Linked DNA regions of Homo sapiens. Each later gene encodes a partner of the first gene's protein in a complex. Each region holds a gene or a part of one and is shown on either strand. Other genes may lie near its edges. The genes, in order: RAI2 and CTBP2.

What was found.
Region 2: the proteins of RAI2 (region 1) and CTBP2 are in contact, whole or in part, in a crystal structure (PDB 8ATI), measured with the Homo sapiens proteins. Residues at the interface, in NP_001166210.2 of Homo sapiens: Glu315, Ala316, Leu317, Asp318, Leu319, Ser320, Met321; in NP_001077383.1 of Homo sapiens: Leu35, Arg42, Cys44, Met48, Val57, Ala58, Phe59, Cys60, Asp61, Glu67, Ile68, His69, Lys71, Val72.

Annotation. Positions count from the first base shown.
Region 1 is NC_000023.11:17,858,111-17,865,210, forward strand, and holds the start of RAI2 (retinoic acid-induced protein 2), read right to left. Parts: upstream 3,189-7,100; 5' UTR 2,988-3,188; intron 2,796-2,987; exon of another isoform or gene 2,399-2,795; intron 1-2,398.
Region 2 is NC_000010.11:125,157,526-125,164,708, reverse strand, and holds the start of CTBP2 (C-terminal-binding protein 2), read left to right. Parts: upstream 1-4,145; 5' UTR 4,146-4,390; intron 4,391-4,751; exon of another isoform or gene 4,752-4,852; intron 4,853-5,931; exon of another isoform or gene 5,932-6,074; intron 6,075-7,183. UniProt on the Homo sapiens protein: Corepressor targeting diverse transcription regulators. Functions in brown adipose tissue (BAT) differentiation. Isoform 2 probably acts as a scaffold for specialized synapses.

The DNA.
Region 1 (7,100 bases):
GTGAGATGGGAAAGATTATTCCCATCTTGTAGGTAAGGAAACTGAGGTTCAGACAGGTTAAGAGAAATAAATAAGAGACCTGGAGCAGGGGAATAGGGACATGTTGCCCCTTTAAATCATAACCACCAAAGTCTGAAATCAGATACACAACTGGAAATTTATCTGAGCCTCAGATTCCTTATCTGTAAAATAATTCTTCCATCACAGGGTGGCTGAGAAGGTTTACCACATGTGAAGTGCCTAGCAGACAGAGGCCAACAATACATGTTAGTTCCCTTCCCAATTTATTTCCCTCCACTACCATCCTCTCCAAAATTCTAAGCTTAGGGGAGAAGCCAGAGAACAGACGTTTCCTATTTTCTTATCATAAATTTGGAGCACGCTGTGCAGGGCTTTCTGCACATCCAGAGTATCTCCATTCTGGATCAATGGATTTGGGAGGCCAGTCCTATCCTCAGCTTCTGGGTCATTACAGCTAGAGCACTCCCAGCAACAGCTCCTCACACACCTTCCAGTCTTTGATTTTTCTTTCTTGTAGTTCAGATGGTCCTGTTTCAGGGACTCTGTATTCTGGATACAAGATTTTGAAATGTGTCTTACAGTTCTTCCCCAGCTGCCCACCAAACCGTGTTCTCACCCCAGCGATCGGCATCGCTTGGAAAACTGTCTTTTCATTTGTTCCTCAGATGAACAGGTTTTCCTGGGCAAAACATCACCACTGGAGGTCTTGGCTTTTTTTCATCATAAAGGAACCCCCTCGGGTGGCTGAATGGTCCCCTGGGCTGGTGCCAAAGTAGTCACTACCCCCAAGTTCCAGTCTGACTTGGTTCATAGTGCCTGGGCTGCCCTGGGGATGCCTCTAGTGGGCATCTGTCAGGACGAGAAGCGAGTGCCCATTTGAAGGAGACTGTGTGTATGTGGGGGTGTGGGGGCAGGTGGCTTCTCTGGGCTTGTAAGAGGCAGAGAAACTGGGATGCCACCATCTTACAATTCTCTGCCTTCCAGCCCACCCCTGGCTTCTCATGTTCCCGTTTGAGAAGAAAACTAGCCTCCATACTGTCCCCTTCCGTATTGTCCCCCTCCCACCTTGCCACCCCTCTACTGTAACAAAGGCATGTCCACACCACATTTTCAAAGTTGTCACAAGTCTCTCGGTCCACCAACAACCAATTCTGATGACTCCAAAGGAGCAAGAGAGACATCCAGAAAACGGTGGGAAAGATTCCCTGGGAAAAGCACAGAAAACCTTGCCTGATGCTTGCAAGGCTAAGAATTGTTTTCTCCCTGCTGGCTGCTTTTCTCTCTGTTCTAAAGAGAAGCTTCCAAGAATCAGTTAAATAAAGGGATCACACCAGAGGATGCGAGATAATGCTAAACCAACAAAAACAAAGACCCAAATGAAACAGACAGAGCCATGAGAATACGCGGTTATCAAAACTTTGTTTGGCCATATCTATTTATCATCGCTGCACACCCGGGCTCTGCGGAATATCATTCTGTTGATGTCACTTATCCTCAGCAAAATATTTACACATCCTTAAAAACGCCAGATGAGGGGGGCCGGCCCGCGCACTGCCGCAAGCCGCCCCTCAAACCCCATCGCTGGGTTCTGAACAGCCCACGACATAGGGGCACGACGGTGGGTGGCACCAGCGGGCACAGGTGAGAGCTACCAACAGTTCCGGGAACACGGTCACCCAGACGCTGCGCCGTGCCCTCCCCACCTCTCCCCTACCTGACTCTGCAAGCAGCAGCCACATACCCGATATGGTGTCGGCGCCTCCTTGTCCTCCTCTCCTGCCTTTTTCATTGATTAAGTTCTCAAACCATTGTTAAAGCTGGGTTGCTTTTTCCTTGGAAAACTGGGCTAAATTCATTAAGCTTCCCTCTGCCACAAAAGGAATATTCATAAAAGTTTGGCAGGCAGAAAGGGAGACTGAGTGAGTGCCATGGTGTGGGTAACAACCCGCTCCTCCAAAGCCACCTTCTTCTTCCGTGCCCCATCCCTCTCTCCATCCATCCGTCGTGCCCCAAACCTACTCCAAGGACTTCTGATAGGGAAACACAAAGCAGCAGCTGTTTGGCAACATTTCTACCCCTCGCCAGCAACTGTGGTGGGATGCCATTTCCCCACCCAGGCGGAGCTTATCCTGAACAATAGTCGGGCTTTAAATGGCAAACAAGCAAACACACAGAGCACAACCCCAACCCCGAAAAAGCCACCGCGGAGAGAAGCAATAACTCCCTCCGCAGCAAAAGGCGCCACTGAAACGCACGCAAAAATGCAGCGAGAACGTTGCTCGGTGCCTAACATGGCAGAAAGCCCGAGCTGGTGCGGCCACCCCGGGGCTGGGCATTGGGGGGCACCGGGGCTCCCGGGGCGCCGACGCACACTCACCCGGCTCCGGGGGGGATGCGGGGCTGGCCGCGCGTCACAAAGAGGAGCCCGGCGCAATCTGGCAAAACCCAACTTTCCACCAGGCTCGCCAGGGCCGCCAGATACGTCAACAGAATCCATCTTTCGAAGGGCCTGGAAGGCGCCGGGTTTTCCGGGCCGGGGCAGAACGGCAGATCCGGAGACTGCCCGGTGCGGTGCCTGGGCGCGGAGTCCGCCGTGCACCGCCCTCTGCGCCCGATGCCAGTGCGGGCGGCGGCCCGAAACCCACTTCGGGGCCCCCGCCCCGCCGGCCGGCGCCGCCTCCCCGGCAGTCCCCGGCCCCGCCGGCCAGTGCGCGGCGCCGGGAACGGGAGCGGGGCCCCGGCGCGCCACACGGGCGGCGGCCTCGGCCCGCGTCCCCGCCCCCGCCCGGCCCTCCCAGCCGGCCCCGGCCTCCGGGCGCCGTCCTGCCCCCGGGAGCAGGCCCCTCCCCGGGCGCCGGGCCCCGCCAGGCGCGCCCAGCCCGGCGCGCCCCCTGCGTCCCGGTGGCAGCTCCGCGCGGGGAGGGCGGGGGTGACCCCGGCCCGCACGGGGGCGCCGCGGCCACTACCTCGCAATCGCGGCCGCCGCCTCCAGGAAGCCGCGGGGTGGTCGAGTGTGCTGGAACTCTCCGGTCTGGCCTCGCCGCCGGCCGCCTGAAGGGGGTGCGCCGCGGTGGGAGCCGCCGTCGCCGCTGTCACCGAGTCGCTGTCGCCGCCGCCGCTGCTGGTTGTGCGTGAGCGTGTGTGCGCCTGTGTCCTGGCGAGTGTGTGTCTGCGTGCGGCGCCCGGCCTTTACTATATACACCAAGGGGTGGGAGGAGGCGGGGAAGGGGAGGGCTTGGGGGAGGCGGCGGAGGAGGGGGAGCAGGAGGGGGGCGAAAGGGTACCCGAGGAGGCGGCGGCGGAGGAGGGACAGGTGATCTCGCCCACGGGGAGGGCGTGGCCGTGGGCGGCGCGGGGTGCCAGGAAGAAGGGGTGTCGGGGCGGGGAGGAGGACCTTGGGGGGAGCGCCGGGGGAGGGCCGGAGGAGCTGGGACCCTACTGCCTCCCGGCGGGCTGGGGACCATTCCAGACCCCAGGATGGAGAAGAGCGAGGAACAGAGCCCAGAAGGGAGGAAGTGGCTGGCTGATGGAAGCGGGGGAGGTGGGAAGGGCTCAGCGATCACCCGAAAATGCCAATTGTGATACCGGTGGAGGATGCTTCTCACAAGGTGGGAGATTAGGAAAGATCAAATTAGTCCACCTACGTAATGTAATTTCCATCCAAGAGGTGATTCATGTATCAATCTAACCTTTATTAAGCGCCTAGTGTTTGCCAGATACTGGGCAAAGAACTGGAGTTACAGGGACGGTGACTGTATGATTGCTGACCAGTAAATAAGTAGTAGGTGTCAGTTGTACTATTGATCATTTTAAAACTGAAAACAATAAACCCTTAGAATTCTTGAGACAGCCAAGGAAGCAACCAAATTGGTTTAATGATTCTCCAAAGATGTAAAGATTTTTTTCTATTAATCAAAACAGGATGAAGATATTTGAGAGAGAATAGCAGAGCAGAAATTATTTAATCAGAGCAGAGAATAAAATGAATCTAGTTGTTCTTGGTAGTCTCGAGCCCCCTGAAGTTCCAATACTGTGTGTATTAAACATGACTTTCCTCTTATCAAATCTGAGTTTTATAACACAGTTTATAATTAGTATGGGAGCCTGAACTTGTGTTTGAAAGGCTGTATTCTAACTATGTTGTGTTGCAAGCATAAGGTGGTAGTAACTGAGGCTGAATGATGTCTGTCTTGAGCACTTTTGCCTTTGTGGACTCCTTCCTCCGTAGAAAGATATTACAAATTACATTTTACAATTGCATTTGTGTAAAGATGAATATAATAGCATTATATATTAAAACAGTTTCTTCAACCTAAAAATTCATTTTTTCTTCTGATTTTAAAAGAAATTAAAAGATTTATGTGGGTCCCTAAACATGAGCCCCAGGCACTGTGTCTACTATGCCTAAGGGAGAAGTCAGCCCTGGTAGTACCATTCCTTGATACTGAATTTCCTCTTTTGAAAAAGAAGAGTTAAATTAAGAAGTACCCAGACCACACAGGGGTGGAAAGACACACAGTGCAAGTTTAAGAATTGATAATAATGAATATCAACAGAAAGTGTCAGTTTCTACTTGTTTCAATCAGGTTTTGGGGGGTTTAAAATCAGCCCCAACTAATTAATGATACCTGTGGAAATATTTATGAATGTGTCTTCAATCATTTCAGCAACCAAAGACTTCCTCTATAGATCTCATAACTGTTCTAAGTTCTTGGATAAGGTATGTGAGGTCTCGGTTGCCAAGACCTAGCCTGAATCCAACTAAAGACACAGCTGGGCAATTATAATTGGGCAAGTTCATGGATGAAAGATCCATAAAGGTTTTGTGTGTGTTGAGGGGGTATGTGTGTATAAGGTAGGGATTGATATCCTGGAAGGCAATTACTAGCCTATTTCTTTTGTTGGCCTCATCACAACCCTGGGTTAATGTTTGATCCTCACTGGCAGTTGTGATTCATATTTGCTGCCCTTTGAGGTGCTTATGTTTTCAGGAAAGATTATATTGATTCAGATTAATGCAGAAGAAATAGGCTTCATGGCCCCCATTCCCAAATAAACATACAGTGGCACCCTTCTGCCTTTTCATCCTGGCTGCCCTTGCAAAGGGAAGGAAAAAAGGTTCATAAAGGGTGGGTCTGGATTTGTGTGTGCGTGTGGGGTGGTGCTTTGGGACAGAAATAGGACATTAATGTGGAATAATTTTGTTCATACAGTTAAAGGGGTGCCTAAGAAAATGGAGGGAAGAAGGAACATGCCGAAACAGCAGGAAAGAACAACCTCAAAATCTTCCAGGATGGGTCAGGGTGATTTTTGAGATCTGTAATTGTAATATTTGGTGATTTTAAATAAGTACCCAAGAAATTTCCCATCCCAGATCTTATTCTTTTTACCCATATCCTCCTTCTCTCATACAGCATCTCCTTATAATCGAGTTTCCACATACTTGCCAGATGAGCGATTAGTTTGTTTATCCAATAAACATCTATTAAGCACCTACTAGCTGCACAGTCACTGAGCTAAGGATGTGGGTTAGAGATATGGTGAATACATGGTTTCTGACCCCAGTATGCTCACAGATTATTAAGAACTGTTAATAATACAATTTGACATTGTGTGGTACATGGTGAGTTATAAAATAGGCTGGGTGAACACCCAAGGAGTGGGCCTATTCCTGCACTGGGAAGGAATAGGGAATGGCATGGGGCAGGGAAGTCAGAAAAGGTTGCCAGAGATGGTGACAGTTGCTGAGTGCTGAGAGACAAATAGAAGTTTCCAAAGTAAACAAAAGGCATTATAAGTGAAGGGAACTGAAGCTGGGATGCAGAACACTATCTAGAGGCTGCAGATTTTTTGTAAGTCCAGAGTAGAGGCTGTGAGGAATAGTAGAGGAGGGGGAAAGGGAAGCTACAGGTCACTTGAAGTCCCTGGTCTGTCCTGTCAAGGAGCTTTTCCTTGCAGTCAGTGAGAACCATTGAAAGGCTTTAAGCAAGGGAATGACAAGGAAAGATTTGGATTGAGGAATGATCACTCTGTTGGTTGGTGTGGTGGGCTGATCAGAGGGAGGTGAGATTGGCAGCAGGGAGACCAGGTAAGAGAGGCTGTTGCAATGATTGGTCCTGCCAGCAGAGATGAAGAGTAGGAACTTGAGTCAGGTGGTACTTGGGATGCAGAATCAACAAGGCTTGATGATGGAGGAAACAGGAGTAAGGGTGACTGACACCTGGTTTTCTGACTTGGGTGACAGGGTGGGTGGGGGCGTGGTCACTGAGATAGAGGTCCCTAGGAAGAGAAGCAGATTTGGGGCTGGCAATGACAAGTGTCGTAGGTTCCCCCAGAAGCATATCCTGAGACAAGGATTCCAGTGCAGAAAGTTGATTTGGGAACTGAAGGAAACACTGTAGGGGAGGAGGGAAGGAAGCCAGAGGGACAGCCATCAATGGGAGGCATGTTCACAAGGCCAGTTACCACTGTGAGCAACTGGAGCTTAATCCCACAGGCAAACTCTTGGACAGGATACCAAGCACCCACTCCAGAGATGAAGAAGCTAGTTAAGAGCAGTCCAGGGGGTGCTGATTTTCTGGCAATTCCAACCTACCACCCAGCATAGGCAGAAGATCCTTCCCAAATACAGAGAGAAGATCCTGGCAGCTGGATGTCTGTGGAGCACATTAAAGTGGTAGCACCCAAGGGATGTGGGTGGTGCATCATCAGTATCTGCTCCAGGGAGTTCTGGTTAAGACATCTCGAATTGGAGGTGCCTGTTGATTAGCCGCGTAGAGCTGTCCAGTAGGCATTTGGAAGAGTAGATCTGGAGTTCAAAATTTAAGTTGCAGACCAGGATTTTGGAGTTGTTAGGCCCCGGGTGTTGGTTGAACCAGTATTACTTGGTGAACTCTGTAGAAGACATGTGTGAATTGGGCTGGTGGCTGAGCCCTTCACCCTGGGGTACACCAACACAATCTGACCTCATCTTTATGAACATGTGGGTTTCTCAAGGGGTTCCTGAAAGCCCTGAAATTGTAGATGTCAGTTTAATGCTCACCGGTGTGAATGCATCTGGGGAAATTGTCTATTGCTTT
Region 2 (7,183 bases), on another chromosome or scaffold:
TTCTACAACCATTGGTTCCTGGAAATGAAATAGGAAAGATAGGAAGCTGAGAAATAAGAACCTCGGTTAGAGGTCTTTGATTGTAGCGGGGGAGGCAGGCTGTGATGCAGCCGCAGGCCGGTCCCACGGGCCTTTTTCAGCCCCTGGGTTCCTACAGACATCAGAAGTGCTCCCGAGGAGGTATAAAGTAGGGAAGGAATTATGCCATCCTGTTTAAAGGCTGCCAGACGGAAGAAAATAAGTGCCTTACAAACTCAACGCTCCACACTGGGGCTGTGGATCTCTCTTTTCTTTCACTACTTTTTTTTTTTTTTTTTGATGGAGTTTCACTCTTGTTGCCCAGGCTGGAGTGCAATGGCGCGATCTTGGCTCACTGCAACCTCCGCCTCCCAGGTTCAAGCGATTCTCCTACCTCAGCCTCCCCAGTAGCTGGAAATACAGGCACGTGCACCACGCCTGGCTAATTTTTAGTATTTTTAGTTTCACCGTGTTGACCAGGCTGGTCTCAAACTCCCGACCTCAGGTGATCTGCCCACCTTGGCCTCCCAAAGTGTTGGGATTACAGGCATGAGCCACTGTGCCAGTCCAAGGGTTCCCATTTCTCCACATCCTCCTCAATACACGTTTTTTTCTCTTTTGTTGATAAAAGACATCCCGGTGGACATGAAGTAGTAACTTATCGTGGTTTTGATTTGCATGTCTCTAATGACCAGTGAGGCCAACCATCTTTTCATGTGCTTACTGGCCGTTGGCCATTTGTCTACCTTCCTTGGAGAAATGCCTATTGAGTCTTTGGCCATTTTTGAATTGGGTTTTTTGTTTGCAACATCTTAAAAAAAATAGTATGAAATAATTCACATGTTGGGGGCAAATGAGCTCCATATTTTAAAATGCAGGTAAAGTGAAGTGAGAAATACTTTTCAGCTCTCAGGATGCCTTGCTTTTAATGTCTTCAAAACAAATAATATATTAATAATACTTTCTCGGCCGGGCACAGTGGCTCACGCCGGTAATCCCAGCACTTTGGGAGGCCAAGGCAGGCGGATCACAAGGTCAGGAGATAGAGACCATCCTGGCTAACACGGTGAAACCCTGTCTGTACTAAAAATACAAAAAAAAAAATTAGCCGGGCATGGTGGCGGGCGCCTGTAGTCCCAGCTACTTGGGAGGCCGAGGCAGGAGAATGGCTTGAACCCGGGGGGCGAAGCTTGCAGTGAGCAGAGATCGCGCCACTGCACGCCAGCCGGTGACAGACTGAGACTCCGTCTCAATAATAATAATAATAATTATACTTTCTCTTTTTTTTTTCTTGAGACGGAGTTTCGCTCTGTCGCCCAGGCTGGAATGCAGTGGTGCAATCTTGGCTCACTGCAACCTCCACCTCCCTGGTTCAAGCGATTCTGCTGCCTCAGCCTCCCGAGTAGCTGGGATTACAGGCATGCGCCACCAGGCCTAGCTAATTTTTGTATTTTTTTTTTTTTAGTAGAGACGGGGTTTCACCATGTTGGCCAGGATGGTCTTGATCTCCTGACTTCGTGTTCTGCCCCGCCTTGGCCTCCCAAAGTGCTGGGATAACAGGCGTGAGCCACCGTGCCCGGCCAAGAACATGTTAGTAATACTTTCTAAGTCAGAATTCAAATTTATAGAACACGTGAAAGTGAAGGAGTGATATGGAAAATCAGGCTTTTTGTGGTTTCTTCCTGAGAAAAGAAGACCACTCAGAACCAAAGACTTCTGTGAAATAAGGAAGCAGAAAATCTTTATTTGTAGTTCTTATAGTTTATGCCTAAGAAACTCCGAAGAACAGGTACTGGTAACCCGGTAGCCTGGCGGTGGCCGCGGTTTGTTTACAGCCAAAAACTAGCTGAGGCGCCATGCCCTTGAGGCAAAACTGCTGAAGAGAGAAGCACCCTGAAGATCAGTTTGTGGAGATCCAGGGTTGCCAGAAGACGAGACAACCGTGATTGCATGTGCGGAGGTTCCTCGATGGAAGCGCAGCCCGGCGCGCCCCTCAGCTGGCCTGGCCAGGCCCTATGAAGGTCACGCGAAAACCCTGCTGCGGGCTTCTTAGCGACCGCATTACGTGGACTAGCGGGCAAGAAAAGCCTGGTCGGCGCTGCCCTCACAGGTAGGCGGTCTTCAATCACGTTTTAAAATCTTGTTGAGTGATTAAGCAATCTTCGATAGTCCCGGCCCCTCCACTGCAGGCCGCTCAGGCCGCAACGCACCTGGTGCGCTTTGGCAAACAAGCCCCGCGGCGGGCTGGGGCAGGATTTAAGAAATGTTTAATGAAGACTGGGAGGCCTGGAGCAACGCTCTTTGGGATGCAGAAAAGGGTCGTGCAGCTCGGTGGCCTCTCCTCCGGCCCCCTGGCCCTGGCTGTAAGTTTCCTCGGCTCTGCAGGGCGCGGGGCACTCAGGGATGGAGGAGACCACACCGCGCGGCTGGGTTCGCGGAATGGCGGTCCCTGCGGCCTCCAAAGGCGGGACCTCAGACCCCTCCCACTCCTTTCCTGCTCGACATCTCAATCCAGCTCCTAATATCTCAATAGGGTTTTTAAACAAATCGATCCTAAGGGCTCAGTTCAGCCCACCCAGGGATTCTTGGAGGACGCACGCCGAACTCAGGGTAGTGAGAAGAGTTTGGGGGGCCCTGGGGCGCAGGGAGAAGACCCCACACTCCACGGCCACCAGCTCCCTTCCGGAGACGGCGCTCGGACGTCGCGGGTCACGGGCGGGGAATTTAGCCCAGGTGCTCGTTGGGCCGCGAGCGGCCGCTGGGCCTGGATTCCCAGGCTCGCTGTGCAGACTCCAACCTTGAGACGTCAGGACGGCGTGGGCTCCGGGCCGCCGCGCAAGCCCAGGACCCCGAGTCGCGGGCCCCCACGCCGCAGCGCGCCTCCCTCCTCGAGACCCGGGGCTCCGACCCAACACAGGGCTTCTCAAATGCCCCGGCGAGATCCAGGCAGCAAGAGGGAACCTTTTTTTTTTTTTTCAATGTGTAAGAATGTTTTGCTTCTTTTAGGGCACAGCACTGCTGCAACTTGCAGCACAGAGGGCCCTTCCCTGCGCACCCACAGCGGTCGCCGCCTCTCCGGCACGGTCTCCCGGATCTGGATTTGGGGAGCGCAAGTGCCCCCTGTGGCCGGCCCGCGCCTGACCCCGCGGGCCTGAGAAGGCAGAAGCGGCCGGTGCGGGGCACCAGGAGGAAGTTGGAGCCCGGGGGCCGGGAAGGGGGCTGGTTGGCGCCGCTGGCTGGGCGGGGCCCCATGGGACCGGGGCCACCCGGGGCTCGCGTTCCCCCACGTGGCCGGCTGCCCGGTACCCCACGTGGAAGGGGCGGAGGAGGATGAAGGGCCAGGGGAGCAGCGGACCCCGAGCCACCGCGACAGGACCTCGGCCCCTGCCACCGAGGCCCCCGCGCCTCCCGAGGGCCTCCCGGGCGGGGCCGGGCTAGGGAGTGCCCGCCGCGCCCGGCCCCTGGCCCTCCCGCCCGCCGCGCTTGTGTGCACTTTCGCGGAGCCACTAATCCCCCGAGAGAGCCGATTTGTAGTGAGGAGTATCTGAAGGGGGCGAGGCCGGCCCATGTGGGGTTGTGTCATTGGTTTGCAAAAAGAGACCCCGCCTTTGCCCCCCCCCCCCAAAAACAGGAGCGAGGAGTGAGCGAGCGGCGACCCTCACCTCGCCTCCCGCCTAGCTCCTGCGCAGCCAGCGGGTACCGGGAGCTGCGGCCAGCGCCGCTTCTTTCCTTTCCTTTTCTCTCCGTTTTCCTTCTCCTTCCCCGGAGGAGAAAACAAATAAAGAAGAGCAAATAGCCGGGAGGCGCTCGGCATCCAGGACGTTCCCTCCCCCGATCCAAGTTGGAATTAGCATCCTCTCGGGGGTGAGCGCGGCGCGGGGCGGGCCCGGGCCGGGGACCCCCAGCGCAGCCCCCTCTCGGCGGGCGGGAGGGCGCGGGGCCGGGACGCGGGGGGAATTGGGAACCGGGTGGGCGGAGGAAGGGGGTGGGGTGGGTGGGGAAGTAGGAAGAGGCTCGGCGGCGAGGGGAGGAGGTGGAAGGGAAGGGAGGGGTAGGGTGGGGAGGGGAGGGGAGCGGAGGGAGGGTGGGGAGGGCGGGAGGGGGAGGGGCGGGGAGCTGGAGAGATTAAGTTTTTGTGTGTGTGTCCCTGTGTGCGTGTGTCATTTTAAGGTGGCTCGGGAGCGGCCCGGAGGAGCCGGCGGCGGCCCGAGGAGCGAGGGACCGAACCGGGAGCCATGCCGCGCTGAGGGGGGGCCGCACAGCCGCCGCCACCGCCACCGCCGCCGGGTGGGGTGGGAGGGGCGGGAGACGCCGCCGCCGCCGCCTCCAGGGTGGGCGCCTTTCGCCGTGGACGCCGACCGTCCGGGACGAGGTAAGGGGGGCCCCGGGGGAGGGCTGGGGCCGCCGCCGCCCCCGCCTCACCTGCGGCCGCGGGCTGGGGGCGCCGCGCCCGCGCCTCACTGCGCCACTCAGGGAGGAGGAGGAGGAGGAGGAAGAGGGCGAAGGACGCGGAGCCGGCATCCGAGGACATCTTTGGTCCGTGCCCCCGGCCTCGTGTCCCCCCTCGGCGCCCGGGGGTGGACGCTGGCTCGGGGGTCCCCGCCCGCCCCCGCCACCGATTGCGCCCGCTGGCCGCCGTTTGCGCCAGGATTTTTGTTGTTGTGATGAGAGTTGATGAATGCGAAGTAGGCGGTCACCTTCCTTCCCATCAGGGTTGAAAAAAAAAAAAAAAGAAACCCCGAGCGCGGCGGCGTCCGGAGGGCAGCGGCGGCGGCGGCGGCGGCGTCTCGGCGACGGTTCCCTGGGCGCCCCCGGCTCCTGCTCCCTGAGCCCGGTGGGTGCGCGCCCGGGGGCCGCCGGCGACCCAGGCCGAGCGCGCGACGCGCCGCGGGGACAATACGGCCGGATCTCCGGGGAACAGGAGTCCGAGCGCGCCGGGGTGCGGCGGGCCTTGCGCCTACGAGGCGAGGGTGGGGGGGGCGCGGAGAAGAGGGGTTCCGTGGGGAAGTCGGGGCGTGAGCGGCTCTCGGTCCCCAGGGGCGCTGCCCCTGCCGGCGGGGGATCCCGCGCGGCTCCCCGGGAGCGCAAGTGAAAGACGGGAAAGGAGGCGAAGTGGAACCCTTTTGTTTTGCCGGCCCCGCATTGTTGGCTCCTCCGGGCAGCCGGGCCACATCTGCTGCCGCTGCCGCCGCCGCCACTGCCGCGCGGGGCTCGGCCCGCCAAAGTCGCGGCGGGGCGGGGGGCCTGGGCGGGCCGGGCGGCGGGCGCGGGCGGGGGCCGGGCGGGCCGGGCATTTCCTCTGCCCGGCCGCGCTCCCGCGGGCACCACTTCCTCCTCGCCCGCCGCCGCCGGGAGCCCGGCCCGCCCGCCTCCCCCACCTTCCCCGCCCGGGCCGCACTTTTCGGGTGGGGCGAATCAAAAAGAAAAAGTTTAGCAGGAGGGGCTGGCTAGGGCGCGCCCCGGGCGGCAGGGACCCGGTGCGGCGCAGGGACAGCCGGGCCGCCGCGGTTCCTCCTCCTCCCAGCCCTCCGCGGCGCCGGACGGCCCCGCGCGGCCGAGGGGAAGCGCCTTTCTTTCTCTCCCTCGCGCTGCCCCCAGCGCCCCGGGCGAGTTGGGCAGAGGCGCGCGGGAGCCGGGGCGTGCCTGGGCCTTTCTCCCGCGGGAGGCCCAGCGGCGTGGCGGGTCGCCTGCAGCCCACGCCGCGCCCTGGGGCTCGGAGGCCGCGGGCCCAAGAGCTCAGCTCGGTCACCGCGGGCCGCGCCGAGACACACACGCGCGCACACACTCCCTCCCGTGGCTCGCTTTCCGCCGGCGACGACGGTCGCGGACACGGAGTGAGCGTGTGCGCGCGAGTGTTTGTGGTTGTCCCCCCTCCCCCCGCCCGGTACTTTTTCCGGAGGCGGCCCAAGCGGCAGTTGGCTGCAGAGGACCCCACGTTTAGGATTTTATAGGGAAGAGGAGGAATTTTTCGTAGAAATCCCCGCTCTGCGTGCTCGTGGTGGAGGCTGCTGGCAATGGCCTACGTCGTCATACCGGGCTTCCTTGCCCTGTCCGGGGTAAACAATCCTTCTGTGTATTTACCCCCTTTTTTCTTTAAAGATTGGAGATCGGGTTAAGTTCTTAGAGAGTCTGATGCGAGTGGCTGGAAGGATAGACAAGAGAATTCTATTCTATAAATATGCATTGGGAATTTAAAATGCTAAACGCCTTATTTGCAATTCTGTTGGATATTCTAGAGACTGGTATATTTTTATCTGACATGGATAATTTTGAGGGGACGTTATATTTTGGGGAAGTTTACAAAGTGATTCTTTCTGCCTTTCTAACTTGGGCGAAATATATCGACTCATACCACCCTTTCAAAAAAGATAGCTTTCTCTACTAGGTGTTTGGGTTCGAAGACAGTTTAAAAATTACCTCGTGTTCAGTACCTAAGATTGCTGTTTTGCCTCGAGGGTTTTCCAAGTAGAAGTGGGTAGTTTTCATGTACTTTGAGAATTCTGAGGTTTTTAACCCCCCCCTTTTTTTTTAAATATAAATCTTTTCTATTTTGAAGTAATGAGACTTTAAAGGATCTTGTTTTTGTAATCACTTGATTTCAAAGGATACTTCTTACAGCAATTATAAAGTAATAGTCAAAATGCTAATTAGACATTTTCAGTCATAGCTGCTTTAATGTTGAAACAGAATTTTTTTCTTTAGCAGAGACTGTATCGTAGAGTTGAAACGCTAAATATTCTTTTGTCTGGCATCAGATCTCTGAACTGCTCTGACATTCTCCTGAAAAACCCCTAGTGCCCTTTTTATTGCCCCCAAAAGAAAAGTTAATGAGATGGTAGATTTCAAGCAAAAAAACAGGCCCTCTTTCTTGCAAAATATGCTTACAGTTGCCATTGAAGTTGGATGTTAGCCGTGAATGCACTTGCCTTTAATGAAACCAGTTTAATCGTTCACACTTGATCAAGTATAACATGAGCAAACAAAGGAAATAAGCCAGCATATTTCTGTAGAGTGTAAGTGTTGATGTTGGGTCACCCCCTCCCCCTACCCTGCCCCCCTGTAAAAGGGAGAGAGGGTTGAAGGCAAAGGGAATTTATGGCGCTGATTGGTTTTTTGTGCCCCAGGGGTAGGGGACCCCAGTTACATCCCTGTGGAAAGCAGTTAT